Linked DNA regions of Homo sapiens. The protein of the gene in region 1 interacts with the protein of each later gene in a biochemical or structural test. Each region holds a gene or a part of one and is shown in the gene's direction. Other genes may lie near its edges. The genes, in order: NPW and NPBWR1.

Region 1 (11,334 bases):
AAGTTTGGCATCGACTTGGTGACCTCCTGGGAGCAGGGGACCACCAGGTTGCCTCAGGAGGGGTGAACTGGGCCAGTTTGGAAAGAGAGCAGGTCAAAACTCCTGTGATCAGTAGTGGGATCACGCCTGTGAATAGCCACTAGACATCAGCCTGGGCAACATAGTGAGACCCTGCCTCTAATCAACCATTTTATCTACAGCCTAATTCCCTCCTACTATGTGGCATAAATATTCACAGGTTGCAGGGATTGGGGGCGAACATCTTTGGGGGGCTACTGTTCTGCGTACACACATGGGTGAAGGCCAGGGATGCTACTAAAGATTCTCAGTGCACAGGATGGCAAAGGTCAGTAGTGCTGCAGCTACGAGTTTTTCTGTTTCTGGCCGGGCGCAGGGGCGCATGCCTGTAATCCCAGCACTATGGGAGGCCGAGGCGGGCGGATCCCCTGAGGTCAGGAGTTCGGGACCGGCCTGGCCAACATGGCGAAACCCTGTCTCTACTAAAAATACAGAAATTAGCTGAGCGTTTTGGCAGGCACCTATAATCCCAGCTACTTGGGAGGCTGAGTCAGGAGAATCTCTTGAGCACAGGAGGCGGAGGTTGCAGTGAGCAGAGATCGCACCATTGCACTCTAGCCTGGGTGACAGAGTGAGACTCTGTCTCAAAAACAAAACAAACAAAACAAAACAAAATAGTAGTTATGCTTATGATTCAAACATTTGGAGATAAATACTAGAAGAAACAGCTAACAGCTAAAAGAGTTGGAAGTAGCTGTCTCTGGAGAGTAGGAGCAGGGTGTGAAGGGTGGGCAGGGATAGCTTTGTTCTCTTCCTTATAGCAAGCAGCCTTTGATTTATAATGTATACTGCCTTGACAACATTAATTATTTTATTTTATTTATTTATTTATTTATTTTTTATTTTTTTGAGACGGAGTCTTGCTCTGTTGCCCAGGCTGGAGTGTAGTGGCACCATCTCGGCCCACTGCAACCTCTGCCTCCCGGGTTCAAGCAATTCTGCCTCAGCCTCCCGAATAGTTGGGATTACAGGCATGCAACACCATGGCTGGCTAATTTTTGTATTCTTAGTAGAGATGGGGTTTCACCATGTTGGCCAGGCTGGTCTCGAATTCTTAACCTTGTGATCCACCTGTCTCAGCCTCCCAAAGTGCTGGGATTATAGGCGTGAGCCACCAGGCGCAGCCCTAATTATTATTATTATTTTTTTTTTTCCTTTTTTTTCTTTTTCTTTTCTTTCTTTCTTTTTTTTCTAATTTTTTTTTTTTTGAGGTGGTCTCTTGCTCTGTCGCCCTGGCTGAAGTGCAGTGACATGATCTTGGCTCACTGCAACCTCCGCCTCCCGGGTTCAAGTGATTCTCCTGCCTCAGCCTCCCAGGTAGCTGGGATTACAGGTGCCTGCCACCACGCCCAGCTAATTTTTGTATTTTTAGTAGAGACAAAGTTTCACTGTGTTGGCCAGGCTGGTCTCAAACTCCTGACCTCATGATCCGCCCGCCTCGGCCTCCCAAAGTGCTGGGATTACAAGCGTGAGCCACCACACCCGGGCAATTTTTTGTATTTTTAGTAGACACGGGGTTTCACCGTGTTAGCCAGGATGGTCTCGATCGCCTGACCTTGTGATCTGCCCACCTCGGCCTCCCAAAGTGCTGGGATTACAGGTGTGAGCCACTGAGCCTAGCCAATTATTTAATATATTTACTGTTTTGGTTTTTTTTTTCATTTTTTGTGAGATGGAGTCTCGCTCTGACGCCCATGCTGGAATGCAGTGGCATAATCTCGGCTCACTGAAACCTCCGCCTTCTAGGTTCAAGCAATTCTTATACCTCAGCCTCCCGAGTAGCTGGGATTACAGGCGTGCACCACAACACCCAGCTAATTTTTTTGTATTTTTAGTAAAGATGGAGTTTCACCGTGTTGGCCAGGCTGGTCTTGAACTCCTGAGCTTAAGTGATCCGCCCACCTCGGCCTCCCAAACTGTTGGGATTATAGGCATGAGCCACTGAGCCCGAGCTATGTATTTACTTTTTGAGACAGGGTCTGTCGCCCAGGCTGGAGTGCAGTGGCAAGATCGCGACTCACTGCAGCCTTGCGAACTCCAGGCCTCAAGGGAACTTTCTACCTCGGACTTCAGGCACACACCACCACACCCAGCTAATATATATATATATTTCGTCATTGTTTGTTTTGGTAGAGATGGGGTTTCGCCATATGGCCCAGGCTGGTCTCTAACTCCGCCTCAGCCTCCCAAAGTGTTGGGATTGCAGGCGTGAGCCACTGTGCCACGCCCTGGCCAATAATTTTAAAGATGACAAAACAGATTTGCTCATTAATCTCCTCCTTACCAGGGCGTTCCTGTTCGGGGCCAGGCTTTGTGCCTGCGGCAGGCGTGGTCCTGGCCTTAAGCAAGTGTCTCACGGGTTTCTAGGCCGGACACTGGTGTCAAGGAACTGAGATGTGAGCCTCAAGAAGCAGGGCTGGCTCTCGTCACCTCCTCCCCAAGGAGAGTTGTGACTCCAGACCCCTGGAGGTGGGGAGAAGGAAGCCTTTGTCACCAGGTCCTGTTCCTGGGCACCAGGCTGGGCAGGACACAGAGGCCTTCCTCCTGCCGCCTGAAAAGGGAGCCCACAGACACCCTTAAGGTTCTGTGTTTTGCTCCTCTAACCCAGTCCTGGTCTCCCCCTGCCACGTGTTCCGGACACTCCACCCAACAGACGCCTCCCCGTGCCTCTGTTCCCAGTGACCTTTCCCTGCGTCCTGCGACTCTCACTCCCTTGGGCCACAGCAATAAACAAGGTAGAGGAGCCACTGCTGGTTTTTTTGTTGTTGTGGTTCTGTTTTGTTTTGTTTTTTTTGAGATAGAGTCTTGCTCTGTCGCCCAGGCTGGAGTGCAGTGGTGTGATTTTGGTTCACTGCAACCTCTGCCTCGCGGGTTCAAGTGATTCTCCTGCCTCAGCCTCCCGAGTAGCTGGGACTACAGGCACCCATCACCACGCCTGGCTAATTTTTGTATTTTTAGTAGAGACGAGGTTTCACTGTGTTGGCCAGGCTGGTCTCAAACTCCTGACCTCATGATCTACCTGCCTTGGCCTCCCAAAGTGCTAGGATTACAAGCATGAGCCACCATGTCCAGCTGTTTTTTTTTTGTTTGTTTGTTTTGTTTTTTTTTTTCTTGAGAGAGAAGGAGTCTTCCTCTGTTGCCCAGGCTGGAGTGCAGTGGCGCAATCTCCACTGCTTCTATTTGCTGTCACAGGGACTTCCATCCCAGCATAGACTTTCATTGATCAGTTTCCACAGTTCCCCCTGCAGAAGCTCCCCGGGCCACCTCCAGGGGGCGTCCTGGACCCTCCCCTGACTGGCTGGAGTCCCCCCAGGGGTCCAGAGACACCCACGTCCTCTTAGCCAGGAGCGGGTGGCAGCGCCAAGGGACCCTGATGGGGCCTGGCTCTGGCCCATGTCGTGCTGCACTACCCGCCCACCACACACTCCAGGCAGCTGTCAAGGACAAGGGGCCCTGGGGGAGCGTGGCGGGGATAGCTTCTTGCAGGGCCTCTGGTCCCCGTGGTCCTCCAGGCGGCGCAGACAGCTCCATCTGCATCCCCCATTCTGCCCCTGTCACAGTGTTTTCCTGACAGGCTGGGGGTGGTCAGCCTCTGGTGCAGCAAGGATAGGTCCTAGCCACAGCGTTCATTGAGTGCTTACTGGGTACCAGGCACGGTTCAGCTCCCAGACCCACCACTGGATTATCAGTGCCAACAAGATGATGAAGTGGCCACTTTTTTTACCCCCAGTTTACAGATGAGGAAACTGAGGCAGGAGAGGCCGAGGTCCTTATCCTCTTCCCCTCAGCTGCGACTATCAAGCAGGGCTGGCGTCTCGCCACTTCAGTGTGGCCTTCCTGGAGAGGGCTGCTGCTTCTAACCCTCGTCAGGCTCACCAGACTCACCGGGGACCCTCACGCCTCAGGAGTGGGAGTCTGGCTCTGCCCCCAGACCTTCTGTTTTGTTTGTTTGTTTGTTTGTTTTTTGAGATGGAGTCTTGCTCTGTCACCCAGGCTGGAGTACAGTGGTCCCATCGTGGCTCACTGCAACCTCTGCCTCCCGAGTTCAAGTGATTCTCCTCCCTCAGCCTCCCGAGCAGCTGGGACTACAGGTGTGTGCCACCATGCCCGGCTAAGTTTTTTTTTTTTTTTTTTTGAGATGGAGTCTCACTCTGTCACCCAGGCTGGAGTGCAATGGCACAGTCTTGGCTCACTGCAACCTCCGCCTCCGAGGACCAAGCAATTCTCCCGCCTCAGCCTCCTGAGTAGCTGGGACTACAGGCGCATGCCACCACACCCGGCTAATTTTTGTATTTTTAGTAGAGATGGGATTTCACTATGTTGGTCAGGTTGGTCTGAAATTCTTGACCTCGTGACATGCCTGCCTCGACCTCCCAAAGTGCTGAGATTACAGGCATGAGCCACTGTGCCTGGCAAGTTTTGTATTTTTAATAGAGATGGGGTTTTGCCATGTTGGCCAGGCTGGTCTTGAACTCCTGGCCTCAAGTAATCCACCTGCCTCAGCCTCCTGAAGTGCTGGGATTACAGGCATGAGCCACTGTGCCCAGCCTGCCCCCAGCCTTTCTGTGCCCTTCTGGACAGGAGTACCCTGTTCCCCCAAGCTGAGGCTCTTGGGCTCAGGTGCTAGGATGTATCTCACCTCCACCATTTACCCAACATGATCTGGGGCAGGTCAGTTCTCCCTGGGCCTCAGTTTACTCGTTGGTGAGTGGAGTCAATAATAGTTCCACTCATGACATTGTCTGGAGGTCAAGATGAGATAGTTCATGATGACCCAAAACGAGATCCCTGGTGTCTGGGACCCAGGGGCTGCCCCATGACTGACATGGTTGCTGAGGGAGGGCTGGATTCACCCTTGCTGGGAGGTCAGGAAAGACTGTGTCAGGCTCTGCCCTCTGGGAGGGGGTTGTTAAGCCCAGATGGCCACAGAGGGAAATTCTGAGGGACTGTCTGGCCCTGCGCCTTTTTTTTTTTTTAAGATGCAGTTTCGGCCGGGCACAGTGGCTCACGCCTATAATCCCAGCACTTTGGGAGGCCGAGGCGGGCGGATCACAAGTCACAAGGTCAGGAGATCAAGACCATCCTGGCTAACGTGGTGAAACCCCGTCTCTACTAAAAATACAAAAAATTAGCCGGGCGTAGTGGCGGGCACCTGTAGTCTCAGCTACTCGGGAGGCTGAGGCAGGAAAATGGCGTGAACCTAGGAGGCGGAGCTTGCAGTGAGCCGAGATCGCGCCACTGCACTCCAGCCTGGGCAACAGAGCCAGAATCCGTCTCAAAAAAAAAAAAAAAGATGCAGTTTCGCTCTTGTTGCCCAGGCTGGAGTGCAATGATGCAATCTTGGCTCGCTGCAACCTCCGCCTCCCGGGTTCAAGCGATTCTCCTGCCTTAGCTTCTCAAGTAGCTGGGATTACAGGTGCCTGCCACCATACCCAGCTAATTTTTTGTGTTTTTCGTAGAGATGGGGTTTCACCACGTTGGCCAGGCTGGTCTTGAATTCATGACCTTAGGTGATCCGCCCGCCTCGGCCTCCCAAAGTGCTGGGATTACAGGTGTGAGCCACCGCGCCCGGCCAAGGATCTGGGCCATTTAAGTGGAGTCTTGAAGGATGAGTAGGTGTTAGGCACAGACGCACAGAGGCAGGCAAAGCCACAGGCTGTTGGTTTAGGCAAAAATTGAGACTGGCTGGATAAAGTGGTCTTGGGGGACCATCACCAGAGAGGAGGCGCTGGAGGTCTGCAAGGCCTTGTCCTGCCCCTCCAGGGGTAGAGGTTCCAGGAGGGGCTGACTTTTTCTCCTGGAAGCCTCACAGAACTGCAGACCCCACGGATGGCTTGGTGTTGCCAACATGAGGCTTCTAAGGCTTCTGCGGGGAGATGGGTTGGTGGGGAGAAGCTGGGGGTGGCAGTGGACAGGACAGGGTGTGGGGACAGCTTTGGGAGCTATGCTAGGCAAGGACAAGGGACAACTCTTGGGGGGACTCACCCAGAGGGGTCTTGAATGGTGCTGAAGGCCCCCGACAGCCCTCCTGCAATAGCCACTGTAGCTCTGCCTGCACCTGGGCCTTCGCTCTGCTGTCGTCCCACCGGCAGGAGTCTGGCTAAAGGGGCATCCCTCAGCCCTACTCCCTCATCAGTGTTCCCAGTACCCACTCCCTGGCACTTCCACTCCTAGAGGGAGGAGGCTGAGCAGGCAGAGAATGGGACGTGTCCCCTCAGAGGAGCCTCGAGCCCAGTTCCAGCCAGCGGCCCACTCAGTGAGGTGCTCAAGTACCCACGTCCCCCGCCAGCTGCCAGGGTTCCCTCTCCTCCCTCCGTCCCTCCCCCCATCTGGGGAGCCCAGCGGTACTGAGGGGGCGGAACGAGGCGGGGCCACCGAGCGGTTATAGCTGGGCCTGCAGGGGACCCACGGCTCGCCTCCAGCCTCCTGCGCTCCGGTACCTGGGCGTCCCAACTCCACTGCGCGCCCAAACCCAGCCGAGCCGGTTCGTGGCCCGCCCCGCCGGGCGGCCGTCGACGCGAGCGCCCTGGCGTGGCGCCCAGGGGAGCGGGGGGCTCCCGCGAGCCGGCCGCGGCTGGCACTGCTGCTGCTTCTGCTCCTGCTGCCGCTGCCCTCCGGCGCGTGGTACAAGCACGTGGCGAGTCCCCGCTACCACACGGTGGGCCGCGCCGCTGGCCTGCTCATGGGGCTGCGTCGCTCACCCTATCTGTGGCGCCGCGCGCTGCGCGCGGCCGCCGGGCCCCTGGCCAGGGACACCCTCTCCCCCGAACCCGCAGCCCGCGAGGCTCCTCTCCTGCTGCCCTCGTGGGTTCAGGAGCTGTGGGAGACGCGACGCAGGAGCTCCCAGGCAGGGATCCCCGTCCGTGCGCCCCGGAGCCCGCGCGCCCCAGAGCCTGCGCTGGAACCGGAGTCCCTGGACTTCAGCGGAGCTGGCCAGGTACGTGAGAGGGGAGAGGCCTGGACCGCCGCGGGCAAGGGGGTCTCGGGAGGTCTGAGCCGGAGCACGGAGCCGCGCGTTCAGGGGGCACCCTCGGGCCCTTCCATTCCCTGCTCCGCGCCCAGAAGAGCTTTCCCTGGGCAGGCTCGACCCTGGCACCCGGGGGCGGTGGTTGGAGGGCCACAGCCTCCTCCCCACGGCCTTGCTGTGTTCTCGTTAGAGACTTCGGAGAGACGTCTCCCGCCCAGCGGTGGACCCCGCAGCAAACCGCCTTGGCCTGCCCTGCCTGGCCCCCGGACCGTTCTGACAGCGTCCCCCGCCCGCCCGTGGCGCCTCCGCGCCTGACCCAGGAGGAGTGGCCGCGCGCTTCCAGGAGCCGCTCATAGACCCCGCCTGCCGTCCGGTCAATAAAATCCGCCTGACTCCTGCGCCCCCGCATGCGACCCCTTCGTCTGCTTGTGTACTTTGCCGTCTAGCTCAGGGCGCAGACAGGCGCGCCCACGCCCTGGCAAATGTCAGGGGCCCCTCCCTCGCCGACCAGGGGAAGCGCCGGGCACTCAGCATTCATTTCAAACCTGGATCTCCCGGCACCCCCTCCCTCCCTTAGCCAAAGGCTTCCGCAGATTGATTAAGAACCCCTGGTCCCCTTCTTCTGGGTCATGCCCCGGGAGGAGGGGCCCCTCCACCTGAGCCCCACCTTGCTTCTTGCTTTTTTTTTTTTTTTTTTTTGAGATGCAGTCTCTCTTTGTTGTCCAGGCTGGAGTGCAATGGCGCGATCTCGGGTTACTGCAACCTCCACTTCCCAGGTTCAAGCGATTCTCCCGCCTCAGCCTCCTGAGTAGCTGGGATTACAGGCACCCACCATGATGCCCAGCTAATTTTTGTATTTTTGTAGAGACAGGGTTTCACCATGTTGGACGTGCTGGTCTTGAACTCCTGACCTCAGGTGATCCGCCCACCTCAGCCTCCCTCCCAAAGTGCTGGGATTACAGGCATGAGCCACTGCCCCTGGCTGCTCCTCTGCCTTTTTTTTTTTTTTTGAGACGGAGTCTGGCTATGTCGCCCAGGCTGGAGTGCAGTGGCGCAATCTCGGCTCACTGAAAGCTCCGCCTCCCGGTTTCACGCCATTCTCCTGCCTCAGCCTCCCGAGTAGCTGGGACTACAGGCGCCCGTCACCTCGCCCAGCTAATTTTTTGTATTTTTAGTTGAGACGGGGTTTCACCATGTTAGCCACGATGGTCTCGATCACCTGACCTCGTGATCCGCCCGCCTCAGCCTCCCAAAGTGCTGGGATTACAGGTGTGAGCCACCGCACCCGGCCTGCTTCTCTGCCTTTTATCCCCCTCTGCATGCACTTCTGGTCACTGGCTCCAGCCCCCCCACATAAATGTGCCCTGCCATCTTGAACACCGAGGACCTCCATCCACCAGGCCCCCTCCAGTTCCCTTCCCAAGGGTCTGGGCCCCTCCTCCCTCCCGCTGCCTCTTCAACCCTCTCTAATCTTCCCTGGGACTCCAATGACTGTCCTGGACCCCAAACCACCAAGGTCACATGCCCTGATGCAGCCCACCCTTGGAGCCCTCCTGTGGCCATGTGGCAGGGTCCCCCCTTGGGGCCACCCAGCAAGCATTGGGGGAGAGGTGGTCCTGGGCCTGGCTCCAGGATGCCTCTGTGGAACCAGCTCCCCACCCCCACTTCTAGAAGCCCCCCTCCCCTCACTGGTAGGTCCTTTCCATCTCCAAGGTGTGTCTGTCTCCCAAATGTGGGTGCTTTTTATCTCCACCCCTTCAATTCTTTTTCTTTTCTTTTTTTTTTTTTTTTTTTTGAGACGGAGTCTCCAGCCCATGCTGAAGAGGCACTATCTCGGCTCACTGCAACCTCCGCCTCTCTGCCTCCCCGGCTCAGATGATTCTCCCACCTCAGCCTCCCCAGTAGCTGGGATTACAGGTGCCCACTACCACGCCCAGCTAATTTTTGTTTTTTTTTTTTTTGAGACAGAGTCTTGCACTGTTGCCCAGGCTGGAGTGCAGTGGCATGATCTCCGCTCACTGCAAGCTCCGCCTCCCGGGTTCACACCATTCTCCTGCCTCAGCCTCCCGAGTAGCTGGGACTACAGGCGCCCACCACCACGCCCAGCTAATTTTTGTATTTTTAGTAGAGACGGGGTTTCACCATGTTGGCCAAGATGGTCTCGATCTCCTGACCTCGTGATCCGCCCGCCTTGGCCTCCCAAAGTACTGGGATTACAGGCGTGAGCCACCGCGCCCGGCCAACAGCCAATTCTTATGGAGCCCTTGGTTCCATCTAGCCCTCCCTCCGGCTCTGTGCTGGGTGAAGAGGTGGTCACACACCTCACAGGGCAACTCATTCTCCTGCGAGCTCATTCCTTCCCACTCCTGCCCCTGTTCCTCACTGAACCTGACCTCTAAGAACATGGATGTCCTGACCTCGTCACCACCACACCACGCCTCAAGGGCTCCCCACTGCCTATGGGACGATACCCGTGCTCTGGCAGGGCTGGCTCTGTCTGCTCTCACCGCCCCTCCCACTGCCTCCTCCCCCTTCCCCACCGCCTGCTCCAGACTGCAGATTCCAGGACAGCCCGGGACCTCCCCCGCCGAAGGAGGACTCCAGGGCCCCAGGCTGGGTTAAATGTTCTTCCTGGGGCTGCTTCAGCTCTGGCCTCCCCTTGCGCAGGCCAAGGTGCTCAAAGCTCTGTTCTCGCGGGGCTGGCGGGGGGGCGTTCAGTGATGTTCCCTGGTGCTTGCCTGGTCCAAGATGGGGAGACAGAGCCCATGAGAGGCTTCTCTGCCTCCCCCACTCCACACCCTTATTCCCCTGCAGCGCAACCAGGCCTAGGGCGCCAGCCTCACCCCAGTCCCCACCCCACAGGACTGGATCGAGTGGAAGGAAGCCAGATGGGCAGGATCCTGGGGCAACTCCTCGCACGATGCAATGCCACCAGTTCCGGCCAGGTGGCGCTGCGCGGCTACTGTTCCGGGCGGTAGCGTCCGACTCGCGCCTCCAGCAACGGGCGGGGCTAGAGCCGCAGTGGGCGGGGCCACGACGGGTGGGCGGGGTCGCCCCGTCGGCGGCAGCGGTTTCCTGCCTCTCCCCACTCTTGGGTCGTCGCAGTCCCCCGGCCTTCTCTCTCTGTCTGGTCTGTGGGTCTCTGTTGGTCACCTCCTTCTGTCGCGCTGGCTCCGCCTGCTCCAGTTTCAGAATGTAAAGAGAGGCATGGTGCAGCCTGAGGGAAGAGGCCCTAGGCGCGGTCTGGTTATGCTTGAAGGGCCATTAATGTCCATTAGGAAGCCCCGCCTGCCTGAGCAGCTCTGGACCATTACCGGGAGTCGGAATAGTGGCCCCACCCCCAGACAGGGCCCCAGGCCACGGCCACACCCCGGAGCCCCGGTCCAGGTCCAGGCTCGGGCTCCCTGAGATCGCTGGGACCTTGCTGGAGGGATGCGGGTTCAAGGCCCGAAGGAAAGGTCCTGCCAAAACAGGAGTGCACGGGCGGCCCCCACCCCGGTGGACCCCCCACCGACAGCCCAGGGGAACGGCTGAGACCTGCTCTCCCTCTGCTGGATAGGACCCACGCCTGGGTAGCATGCTGGCAGGCGTGGGTTAAGGGGGTTGGGTGGAGAGTTGGGGGATCTCCCAAGCCTCTGATTGCCTCTGCCTTGACTTTCTTCCCTCCTGCTGGGGCCCGGGGAGCCCACGTCACCCACACCCCATCTGCACCCCACAGAACCAGGAAAATAAAGTCCACCCTCCTCTCGATGCTGACCCTACTCCCTCCCGCCCACCTCCCTAGCCCTTTCTTCGAGACACCAAGCACTTTGCGGCCCCTGAACACCTTTGCCCAGGTGCTTCCCTTCGCCTTTCTCTGCCTCCAGCGCAGCACCCATACGGGCCAAGGTCAGCCTCGGACCAGGGCTGAGAGCTTCCGGAGGCTGGCTGGAGAAGAGGCCTGGGAGGGTTTGCCCCCGAGAGCTTCTAGGTCACCCTTCCTCGCCTGTTCCTCCAGGCCCCTGGACTCACTGTCCCCTCTCACTGACTCTGCACCTCCTCTGAAATCGTGACCTCTGGTTCCTCTCTGGCTGCCTCATTCCTCCTGCTCCCTGCTTTGCTAGGCCCACTTCCTTTGTTGCCCGGCCCTTTGCTACTCTGTTACCCTCCTCAGCTCCTTCATGGCTTTGGGGACTCTTTTGTTAACTCTGTAGCAGCAGTGTGTCCGGTGATATTTCCTTGGTTCCTGGCCCTGGTTGTGACCTCATGTCCCTTGTGGCCCCTCCCTCTGCCATGCTGTTCTCCATCCC
Region 2 (11,944 bases), on another chromosome or scaffold:
GCTACAGTGACATAAAAAACCACTTTTAAAAATAAAAATAGTGGAAGAAAAAGACCATAGAATTTCAAACGCTTGAAAGAAAACAACTGCAAACCTGAAATTTAATATCCAGTGAAACATTTCTTTAAAAAAAAGTTGGGGAAAATAAAGATATTTCAAAACAATAACAATAGCAGTAAAAGTTTATCACCAGCAGAATGCACTTAAAATATTAAGTGAATTCATTAGGTAGAAGAAAAGTGATACCAGATGGATGCATAGTAATGCAGGAAGGAGCAGGGAACACTGGGAGCACAAACGTGTGGGTAAATATAAAGGCATATTTCCTGTTTAAAAGTAATAATAATGTTTTATAGAGTTTTAAACATATGCAGATTTAGAATATATGTTAACAGTTGCACATAAGGAAGAGGGCAGTAAATGGAGTTCAGTGTTAAAAAGGTTTTGCATTCTCTGGGAGGTTGTAAAAATAATAATTTAAAGTATCTATTAGTAAGTTAAGGATACATATTATAATCTCTAGTGTATGTCTAAAAGAATGATTAAAGCATGTAGAAATAATAAGTTAATGGAGTGGGATAAAGTAAATAATAAAAAAATTAATTAATCCAAAATAATGTAAGAAAGGAAAACACAATGGAAATGAGATAGGAAAAATAGAGGACAAAGAATATAGCAGGTATATATCCTTGTTTTAGTCTGTTCAAGCTGTTAAATGAAATACTATACACTGGGTGGCTTCCAAACAACAGAAATTTATTTCTCACAGTTGTGGAGGTTGGGAAGTCCAAGAACAAGGTTCTGGCAAATTTGAAGTCTGATGACCATCTTTTTTGCTGTAACTCACAAAGCAGTAGAGATGAGGGATCTGTTTGGGGCCTCTTTTATATCGGCAAGAATCCCATTCATTAGGGCTCTGCCCTCATGACCTAATAATCACCTCCCAAGGCTTCACCTCCAAATACCATCACATTGAAGATTAGGTTTCAGTATGTGAATTTTGGGGAGACACAAACATTCAAACTTTTGGCTCCCCCCAGATTCATGTCCTTCTCATATCTGACATACATTCATTCCATCTCAATAGTCCCCAAAATCTTAATTTGTTCCAGCATCAACTCAAAAGTTTAAAGTTCAAAGTCTCATTTAAAAATCAGATATGAGGGAGACTCACAGTACAATTCATTCTGAGGCAAACTGCTGTTCAGATGGGAACCTGTGAGATTGAACATGTTGTGTGCTTCCAAAATACAAGAGTGGGACCAGGCATAGGATAGACATTCCCATTCCAAAGGGAGAAATAGGAAAGAAGAAATTCATAACAAATGCTTCCCAAGTCCAAAATCCAACAGAGCAAACATTAAATCTTTTTTTGGGGGGTGGGGAGTGGGTACAGAGTTTCTCTCTTGTTGCCCAAGCTGGAGTGCAATGGTGTGATCTCCGCTCACTGCAACCTCTGCCTCCCAGGTTCAAGTGATTCTCCTGCCTCAGCCTCCCCAGTAGCTAGGATCACAGGTGTGTGCCACCACACCCAGCTAATTTTTGTATTTTTTTTAGTAGAGACAAGGTTTCACCTGTTGGCCAGGCTGGTCTCCAACTCCTGACCTCAGTGATCCACCCACCTCAGCCTCCCAAAGTACTGGGATTGCAGGCATGAGCCACGGCGCTCGGCCAACATTAAATCTTAAGTCTTAAAAATAATCCTCTTTGGTTCCATGTCTCACTTCCAGACATACTGATGTGGTGAACCTGTCTCCACAGCTTTGGGTGGCCCTGCTCCCAGGGCAGCTTGATACCTGGCTTGCATCCTGGCTTCCTGGGGCTAGAGTCACACACTGGCTGCTTTACTGCTCTGGGTCAAGGGAGCTGACCTACCCCAGCTCTGCTGAGCGTTGGGCTTCACAGGGACTCTCTGTGGTGCCTCACACCCTCGGAGGCTTTTGCACTCTGCGCCTTTATAAGGGCACTAATTCCCTTCATGAAGGCTCTGTTCTCAGAACCTAGTCACCTCCCAAAGGCCCATATCCAAATACTATCAATTGAAGATTAGCTTTCAATATGTAATTTTTTGGGGAGACAAAAACATTCAGACCATAACAACCCTAATACTATCTATAACTACATTTAATATACTATGAACTCAATACTTCAAAGACATTGTCAGATTGGATTAAAACAAATGTTCTAATGCTTACATGGGACCCACATTAAATACAAAGACATAGAAAGATTTAAAGTAAAAAGATTTTTTAAAAAAAGCTGTTCCATGATAATATTAATGGAAAAACAGTTAATGTAGCTGTAATGATATCAAACAAAAGTGGCCACATACAGCAAGTAGGAAATGGCTGGGCGCGGTGGCTCATGCCGGTAATCCCAGCACTTTGGGAGGCCGAGGAGGGCGGATCACGAGGTCAGGAGATCGAGACCATCCTGGCTAACATGGTGAAACCCCATCTCTAATAAAAAATAGAAAAAATTAGCCAGGCGTGGTGGCAGGCGCCTGTAGTCCCAGCTACTCAGGAGGCTGAGGTAGGAGAATGGCGTGAACCCGGGAGGTGGGGCTTGCAGTGAGCCAAGATCGTTCCATTGCACTCCAGCTTGGGCGACAGAGCGAGACTCTGTCTCAAAAAAAAAAAAAACAAAAAAAGAGAAAAAAGAAATAGAAACCTAGTTAAAGATGTTATAATGATAAAAGGTAATATATACAGATAATATTATAATTATATGTGATATATTCTATATTATAATGTTAAATGTATGATCATTTGATAAAATCAAATAACATGATGATAAAATCATTATAATTAGGCTATCAAGATGAAAGGGTAAATTCCACAGGAAAATATAGCGATCTTAAACTCGTGTACCCTTAATAAAACAGCATCAAATTATGTAGTGAAAATTGGCCAGTCATGGTGGCTTGTGCCTGTAATCCCAGCACTTTGGGAGGCCAAGGCAGGCGGATCGCTTGAGGTCAGAAGTTCGAGACCAGTCTGGCCAACATGGTGAAACTCCATCTCCACAAAAAATACAAAAAAAAAGAAAATTAGCTGGGCGTGGTGGTGTGCCCCTGTAGTCCCAGCTACTCGGGAGGCTGAGGCAGGAGAATCACTTGAACCTGGGAGGCACAGGCTCCCACCACCACACTTCAGCCTGGGCAACAGAGTGAGTGAGACTCTATCTCAAAAAAAAAAAAAAGTAAAATTACGTAGTACAAGTTGACAGCATATAATGAAAGCGTAAGTAGAGAAATTCACACTCATTAATTGAAATTCCCCCCCCCCGTCCTTTCAGTAACTAATGAGACAGTTAGATAAAAATATCAGCAGAAGCCAGGCACGGTGGCTCACACATGTAATCCCAGCACTTTAGGAGGCTGAGGTTGGTGGTTCGCTTGAGCTCAGGAACTCAAGACCAGCCTGGGCAACATGGTGAGATCCTGCCTCTACGAAAAATACAAAAAATTAGCCTGGTGTGGTGATGCGCACCTGTAATCCCAGCTACTAGGGGTGCTGAGAGGGGATGATTACTTGTGCCCAGGAGGTTGAGGCTGCAGTGAGCTGCAATTGCACCACTGTACTTCAGCCTGGGTGACAAAGCAAGACCCAGTCTCAAAAAAAAAGAAAAAAAATCAATAGAGAAATTTGAACAACATAGTAAGTTTGACTAGTTGACATATGTAGAGTTTTGCACCCAACAAGTGCAAAACAATTTTTCAAGTACACATGAAATAATTAGAAAATAACTATATACTGGGGAGTAAGTTTCAAAAAATATCTATGAATTGAAGTCATATTGAGTATGTTCTCAGTTTACAGTGTAATTCAACTGGAAGTCAACAATAAAAAGGCTAGAAAATCTCCAAACGGTTGAAGATGATCAACTATATACATACATGTGTATATATACACATAAACATATATGGACACACGTGTATACATACGTGTATATACACGTATATACACATGTGCATATGTGTATACAAACATTCACACGTGTATACACACGTGTATAAACTATATACATGTGCATATATACACACATACACACATGTGTGTATATATGTGTGTATATACACACGTGTGTATGTGTATATACACGTGTGCATATGTGTGTGTATATACACACAAGTGTGCATATATGTGTGTATATACACTGTGTATGTGTGTGTATATACACGTGCATATGTGTCTGTATATACACGTGTGTATATGTGCGTGTATATATGCGTGTGTATATATGTGTGTGTATATACACGTGTGTGTATATATGTGTATGTATACACGTATGTGTATATAGTTGATCATCTTCAACCGTTTGGAGATTTTCTATTATATATATTTTTTCTTTAACATTATATGGTGTTTTATCATATAGTGTTTCTTACGGACATAGCTTAAGAATCATCTGTTATTTTGTTTCACAGAAAGTGTGAAACTGCAGGGGAGCCGATTTGTATAGATCCTGGTAAAAAGATAATTGAGTAGGTAAATTCCAGGGAGCTTTTGGACAGTGGATCCCCCTGTCAGTGGTTTTGGAGTCCCTAGTTTCAGTTACTCGTGGTCAACTGTGGTCTAAAAATATTAAACAGAAAATTCCAGGAATAAACAGTTCCTAGGTTTTCAATTGTGTTGACTTCTGATTGGCGTGATGAGATCCAGCCATCTTACTCCTTCCCACAGAAAGTGAGTCCTCCCTTTGCCCAGCGTTTCCCTGCTGTCTACAATATCCACCTGTTAGTCACTTCACAATCTGGGTTATTAGATGACTGTGGCAATGACCAGTGTGGTGTCTTCAAGTTGCCTTGATTTTACTGACTTTTTGCCCTTATTTCTCTCTGGCTCCAAAGTGCAAGAGAAGTGATGCTGGCAATTCAGATATGCCAAAGAGAAGCTGCAAATGCCTCCTTTAAGTTAAAAGGTAAAAATTCTGGACTTAATAAGGAAAGAAAAAAAATCATATGCAGAGGTTGCCAAGATCTACTAAAAACAAATCTATCCACGAAAATGTGAAGAAGAAAAAAGAAATGCATGCTAGTTTTGCTGTTGCATCATTTTTGGATGGAAGAACAGAAACATGTTCCCATTGACCGCAATGGGTACTATCCATGGTTTCAGGCATCCACTGGGGCTCTTGGAACCTATCCCCCATAGGTATGGGGGGGCTACTGTATTTCTGGCCCCACAGTCTTCTACTGCCGACTTTAGGTCTCTCTGGATCTCAGGCCCCCTTCTCTAAGATGCATCCTAGAGGACCAAAAATACACTTTATTTGGGCTTCGCCTGCTTTTGTGGAAGGGTAGTTTACTAGAGGATATAATCTCGTGTTTTAATTTGCTCTCTCTCCTAAAGGAAATGTGGAGAAAAAAAAAAAGCAGAAATTGGAAATAACCAATATTTAGTTTATTTCATTCGATTCTTAGGGGAACTGGTGAGGAGCCTAAGATGATTTTCCCTTCCTAGAGAAAGAATCCAAAGTCCAGGGAAATAGCGACAGGGGAGTTCAAGACTGCCCCTGCTAGTCCTTCCTTGGCTACTCTCCGCTGCGATCGCAGGATAGCTCTCATTAGCAGGAGAATCGGGCAAGTGTGTGGATAAGTAGAGAGTGTGTTGAACAACTTGTAACGTTTTATGAAATACGCATTGTCATGGTTCCCTAAAAGGCTTTGCGGAAGCCGTTTGTCTTTACTAATCAAGTCTTTACTTACACAAAAGTAGAAGTAGAAGTAGTTTTAGAAAACATACTAACAATCTTCTATCCCCTTGAAGACCAGAGTAGCAGAAAACAGGTGATTTGCATTATAAAATTGCACTCACTTTTTCCTCCTTTCAGATTTCACATTACATTAGCCTATTTGTGTTACGGTGTATAAAAAATGGAACAGGCGCCTCCACTACATTGTTCTCCTTTAAAAATAGATCACTTACACCCTAACTTTGTTTTCCTTAAATTCGATTCTTAACAGGAGAGCTTTCTATTATTTCAGATGGAGTGAGGTTGCACGACTGGGATGGAAGAAAGGAATCCCTTAAATTTGGGGGAATTTCTGTTCTCTGTTCTAAGACCATTTTACTTGGGGTGTGGGGGTGGGCGCGGCGGTCAGGGCAGTGGAACGCAGTCGCGGCTGCGCCATCCCTGCACTTCCAGGCGCGCGGGAGGGACCGGCGGGGACGCGAGCTGCGGACTCTGGCGAACTCGGGGGAGGCAGACAGGGGGAGGCGGACACCCAGCCGGCAGGCGTCTCAGCCTCCCCGCAGCCGGCGGGCTTTTCTCCTGACAGCTCCAGGAAAGGCAGACCCCTTCCCCAGCCAGCCAGGTAAGGTAAAGACTGCTGTTGAGCTTGCTGTTACTGAGGGCGCACAGACCCTGGGGAGACCGAAGCTTGCCACTGCGGGATTCTGTGGGGTAACCTGGGTCTACGGAAGTTTCCTGAAAGAGGGGAGAAGGGTTTGCATTTTTCCTATGGAGGATTCTTCTCTCTCTAGCATTTCGTTTGATGTATTCAACTGGTAGAAGTGAGATTTCAACAGGTAGCAGAGAGCGCTCACGTGGAGGAGGTTTGGGGCGCCGCGGCGCCACCCCCACCCCTCCTCGGGACCGCGCCTATTTCTAAAGTTACACGTCGACGAACTAACCTATGCTTTAAATTCCTCTTTCCAGCCCCGTGAGTCCGCGGCGACATTGGGCCGTGGGGTGGCTGGGAACGGTCCCCTCCTCCGGAAAAACCAGAGAACGGCTTGGAGAGCTGAAACGAGCGTCCGCGAGCAGGTCCGTGCAGAACCGGGCTTCAGGACCGCTGAGCTCCGTAGGGCGTCCTTGGGGGACGCCAGGTCGCCGGCTCCTCTGCCCTCGTTGAGATGGACAACGCCTCGTTCTCGGAGCCCTGGCCCGCCAACGCATCGGGCCCGGACCCGGCGCTGAGCTGCTCCAACGCGTCGACTCTGGCGCCGCTGCCGGCGCCGCTGGCGGTGGCTGTACCAGTTGTCTACGCGGTGATCTGCGCCGTGGGTCTGGCGGGCAACTCCGCCGTGCTGTACGTGTTGCTGCGGGCGCCCCGCATGAAGACCGTCACCAACCTGTTCATCCTCAACCTGGCCATCGCCGACGAGCTCTTCACGCTGGTGCTGCCCATCAACATCGCCGACTTCCTGCTGCGGCAGTGGCCCTTCGGGGAGCTCATGTGCAAGCTCATCGTGGCTATCGACCAGTACAACACCTTCTCCAGCCTCTACTTCCTCACCGTCATGAGCGCCGACCGCTACCTGGTGGTGTTGGCCACTGCGGAGTCGCGCCGGGTGGCCGGCCGCACCTACAGCGCCGCGCGCGCGGTGAGCCTGGCCGTGTGGGGGATCGTCACACTCGTCGTGCTGCCCTTCGCAGTCTTCGCCCGGCTAGACGACGAGCAGGGCCGGCGCCAGTGCGTGCTAGTCTTTCCGCAGCCCGAGGCCTTCTGGTGGCGCGCGAGCCGCCTCTACACGCTCGTGCTGGGCTTCGCCATCCCCGTGTCCACCATCTGTGTCCTCTATACCACCCTGCTGTGCCGGCTGCATGCCATGCGGCTGGACAGCCACGCCAAGGCCCTGGAGCGCGCCAAGAAGCGGGTGACCTTCCTGGTGGTGGCAATCCTGGCGGTGTGCCTCCTCTGCTGGACGCCCTACCACCTGAGCACCGTGGTGGCGCTCACCACCGACCTCCCGCAGACGCCGCTGGTCATCGCTATCTCCTACTTCATCACCAGCCTGAGCTACGCCAACAGCTGCCTCAACCCCTTCCTCTACGCCTTCCTGGACGCCAGCTTCCGCAGGAACCTCCGCCAGCTGATAACTTGCCGCGCGGCAGCCTGACTCCCCCAGCGTCCGGCTCCGCAACTGCCCGCCACTCCTGGCCAGCGAGGGAGGAGCCGGCGCCAGAGTGCGGGACCAGACAGGCCGCCTAGGCCTCCTGGGGAAACCGACTCGCGCCCCATACCCGACCTAGCAGATCGGAAGCGCTGCGACTGTGCCCGCAGGTTGACCTTGCCAAGCCCTCCAGGTGATGCGCGGCCATGCCGGGTGAGGAGAACTGAGGCTGAGATCGCCACACTGAGGGCTCCCTAAAGCCGAGGTGGAGGAAGAGGAGGGTAGAGGAGGAGGGCGGTATTGCTGGGAACCGCCCCCTCCCTGCCCTGCTCCCTGCTGCCCCACCCGAGCCCTGGCAGTCTGGAACCTGGCTGGAGTCGGAACTCTCCGCGCCTTCGAAGGGAGGCCCGAGGACGCTGCCGGCGCCCCCAGGCGTCGGCTCCGCGCGGCCCCTGCTGTAGCTGGCGCACAGCCCCGGCGGGTCCCCTTGTCCTCCGCGCGCTCTGGGAAGACGGTCAGGCGCGCGCGTTTGGCGCCCACCCCTGTGAGACCCGCTTGGCCTGGCGCCGCGGGCGGGGACCGCTGCCGAGGCCGCCAGCGCCTCTTCAACTGGGGAAAACACAACAACTCGGGATGCCCCATCGGAGTGTGTATACACCTGTGTGTGTGTGTGTGTGGTGTGCGCGCGTTTGCGGAGGCATGAAATGCGGGGAAAGAGGCTGGCGCTTGGCAGTGACTGCCTAGAATATGATACGAATAGTGATCCTTCTTTCTGTCTGCCCCTACTCCTTTTCTTTGCCTTTTCCCTTTCCTATCCGTGATCTCCCCTGAAAATGTCAGACTCCCGGAGCAAGGAACCCGGAGTAGCCCGGGCGCGCGGTTCCGGCGCCCCCTGGAGGAGCCAGCGGCCGAGTGCTTAGCGTCGGAGGATCGCGGGGCTTTGTGGTGGAGCACTCCGGCTGAGCGCGCTTCACAGCGCTGTGGCACACTGGTCATCGTTGCTTATAGAGGATGCCAAGCCCCACCCCCATTCCCCCAATTGGCCTCGTCTCTTGTCTTACTTAGATCAGTTTGTTGTAACTGTTCATGTGTGTACTGTTTTTCAGGACTGAAAACTTTATAAATAATGTACATGTCCTAATCTCACGAGTTGCCATGAAGATCAAATAAGATAAAAAGAAATGCGATCTATTCTCTTGTGTTCCCTTTCTCCTCTGCTTCCTTGGCTCCGCCTTAGGGAGAGCAGGAAGCAGGGATGACCGACGGCTTCAGGTTTTCTCTGCTGTACTTTTCACAGGGAGCTGTGGATTACCTGGGCTTTATTCCTTACTTGTAGACGGCATCCGGTAGGTAGTCCCGGTAAACCGGGTAAATACTGGTCCTGGAGTCACCAGGGAGATTGGCCAGCATCCTACCTGTGTTTTTGTCTCTGCATATGGAAGACAAAGTGGATTAAGAGAGAGGACTGGCATTGGGTTTGCCCAATCCTCTGCAGTTTAGCCTTAGACATGAGGGCCGAACCCTAAGCAAAGTCTGGTAATTGATTATGGTGTTTTAAAAGGTATTAATCTTTAGGATGAAGTCCAAACAGGATGAAAATTTCTACAAATGTTTGTTTCCTATGTCATGTGTGAGAAAAAAAAATGTGAGTGTTGCAGCACATTTTGTTTGCTTAGTTTGGCATCTTCAATCAATTTCTCAATTATTTAGGTTGAAAATAGCTTTTAATAAATATTTGGAAGGAAAAAACTCCCCCTTGGAATGGGGGGAAGCAAACCCCCTCTCTAATTTTGGTGAATAAGAATTGCTTTCTTAGCTCTCAGAGTTTTTAGGAACATTGAAATAATTCATAGCCATCAGTTTAGAAAATATACATTAAAAAACCTTCTGTCTTGGGTGGCAAATAATAGTAAATTGTTTAAAAGAAAGTTTTCATCTACAATGAGTTTCGAGTGGTGGACCTCATGGCATTTGAACAGGCCTCTCTCTGCTGGCCGGCTTCGGAGGCTTCTTGGAATTCATTTTAATATCTTTCGAATTTCTAGGAAACATTCTATTGATTTTCCTTAAACTCTCAAAATTATCTCATGAATCCTCTGTAACTTTTCAAAATTAAAGTTTTAAACTTAGAGTAACTTCTAGATTACCTAAGGTGATGGACAAAGAGTAAGGTGAACATTTGGCTACAAACACAGCTGGAGTGATTGTCTGGATTCAGTATCTCATCTGTCTTAATAAGCTCAGTAACTGGACTCAGATGGGGGACAGCTGAGTGATCCATCTGTCCACTGTTTCATCCCTACAGTAGATTGACCTCGAGCCTTCTTGGAATCTATGGAGATGACTGCTGGAAAAATACACGGGCTGACATTGCTGTTCATCCCCAGCAAGGCATGGACTGGCTTCTGAGTATGCCTGTGGGATTAATCAGGTCTCAGCAGTTGAGTTCCTCCTGGGCTTTCTGATCACTGGATAAACTGTTGTATCATTATTTCTAGGTCGTTGCCCTTCATACGAGCATGTAGACTGTATATCTCAGGCTTCCTTTTTATGTCTTGGGTAATCGGTTGAATAAATACACACATAAGCCAGGCAAAAGTAGAATTTATTCACATCATTGTATTGCAAAGGTTTTAACACTGTGTTGAATTCTTGCAGTTTCTGTGTAAACTCTATGGTTTGGTTTTACCACTTTGAATAGTTAAAAATGTCTATTTGCTTTTACTTAATTTAGTGCAGTTATGTAATGTGTATGCTTATGTTTTCTCTTGACAAACGCAGAAACTCTGTAGTCCATTGTAGAGGAGCTCAGTTTAAAATAAAAGCTGAAACATTCTGTGTGATAAGTGAACATTCTATTTTCTGAGAACAAGTTATCCACAATTAAGTCACCTTAGCATTTGTGCAGTGTTACTATTTAAAAATACTGCCTTCATTGGAAAAGTGATCCAATGAATACTCAATGAATAAATAGAAGTATTTGACAGGACAAAATTAAGAATGAACACCCCCACCCCTTAATTTGGTTGATTGTGAAAATGATGCAAAGCTGCTGATAAACACAGAGATTCCAGAACTTATGCTGGGCAGAGAAAGGATGCTAAACTTCTATCATACCATCAAAAGCCTCATTTCTTAAATATTTGAGCAGCTATGTGGAGGGGGAGAAGGGAAGAGAAATTGCTTCAATTATTAGTATACACATTGCTATCAGCAATATGCATAGACATAGCACAAATATGCAAGGTGGAGAATCTCACCTGAAAAACTCACGAACTTATTATAAACCCTTCTTTCCTCAGCAACATGCTGGGAAAACAACAGCAAGACAAAAAAACAGTAAACTCTCCTTGGATATTAATCATCTATGCTTATGCACATTAAGAAAGAGATCAGAGAATTCTGCCCATAATGGTCTTTTATTAGCACAGCTTTGGGTCTGGCACTTCGGCCCCCATTTTACATACAAAGAAAGTGAGATACAAGGAAGTGGATCAATTTAGCCAGGCCCACAAAGATCAGTGAAGACCAATCAGAGCCACCCAGTTCCCATTCTATTCTAGGAATTGTGTCATCTTGTTTCAGCAGAGATGGAATTCGTTGCAATGTGTAATTTGGAAATATTAGACTAGAAAACAATGATGTCTTTTAAATATTTAGTAGATTAAGCAAGCTGTATCTACCATTAGCTCATACGAGATAAAGGGAGGGTAAGATTTAATATTATAAAACTTCAATCTTAATTCAGAGACTTACAAAGTGTATGGGATTGTTGAAAGTTATATGAGAATAAAAATTCCTAACAGAGCTGTCACACAAAGGCACCATGTGCATAGCAGCCTCCACGCTTTATGTACGTGGAACTGTGCCCCAGAGGGACTATTCATATAGGAGACAATGCTAATGATGGCTGTACTCTGTAGAATGGAGCTTTGCAATGGATGATGCTGTCCTTGAATTTAGGGCAAGGGAAATGTATTTGTTTATACCATATCTCATAAGGTTACATTGGTGACATCATGTTAAATAAAAATAAAAGATGGAAAAAGGGAAGGAAATTTAAAATGATATTGCTCAGAAACTGTCAGAATGCATGAACTGCA

What was found.
Region 2: the proteins of NPW (region 1) and NPBWR1 form a complex in vitro, tested with the Homo sapiens proteins (one study listed by BioGRID).

Annotation. Positions count from the first base shown.
Region 1 is NC_000016.10:2,013,298-2,024,631, forward strand, and holds NPW (neuropeptide W preproprotein), read left to right. Parts: upstream 1-6,487; 5' UTR 6,488-6,604; coding exon 6,605-7,015; intron 7,016-7,235; coding exon 7,236-7,322; 3' UTR 7,323-7,458; downstream 7,459-11,334. UniProt on the Homo sapiens protein: Plays a regulatory role in the organization of neuroendocrine signals accessing the anterior pituitary gland. Stimulates water drinking and food intake. May play a role in the hypothalamic response to stress.
Region 2 is NC_000008.11:52,933,048-52,944,991, forward strand, and holds NPBWR1 (neuropeptides B/W receptor type 1), read left to right. Parts: upstream 1-6,134; 5' UTR 6,135-6,319; intron 6,320-6,663; 5' UTR 6,664-6,860; coding exon 6,861-7,847; 3' UTR 7,848-10,687; downstream 10,688-11,944. UniProt on the Homo sapiens protein: Interacts specifically with a number of opioid ligands. Receptor for neuropeptides B and W, which may be involved in neuroendocrine system regulation, food intake and the organization of other signals. Has a higher affinity for neuropeptide B.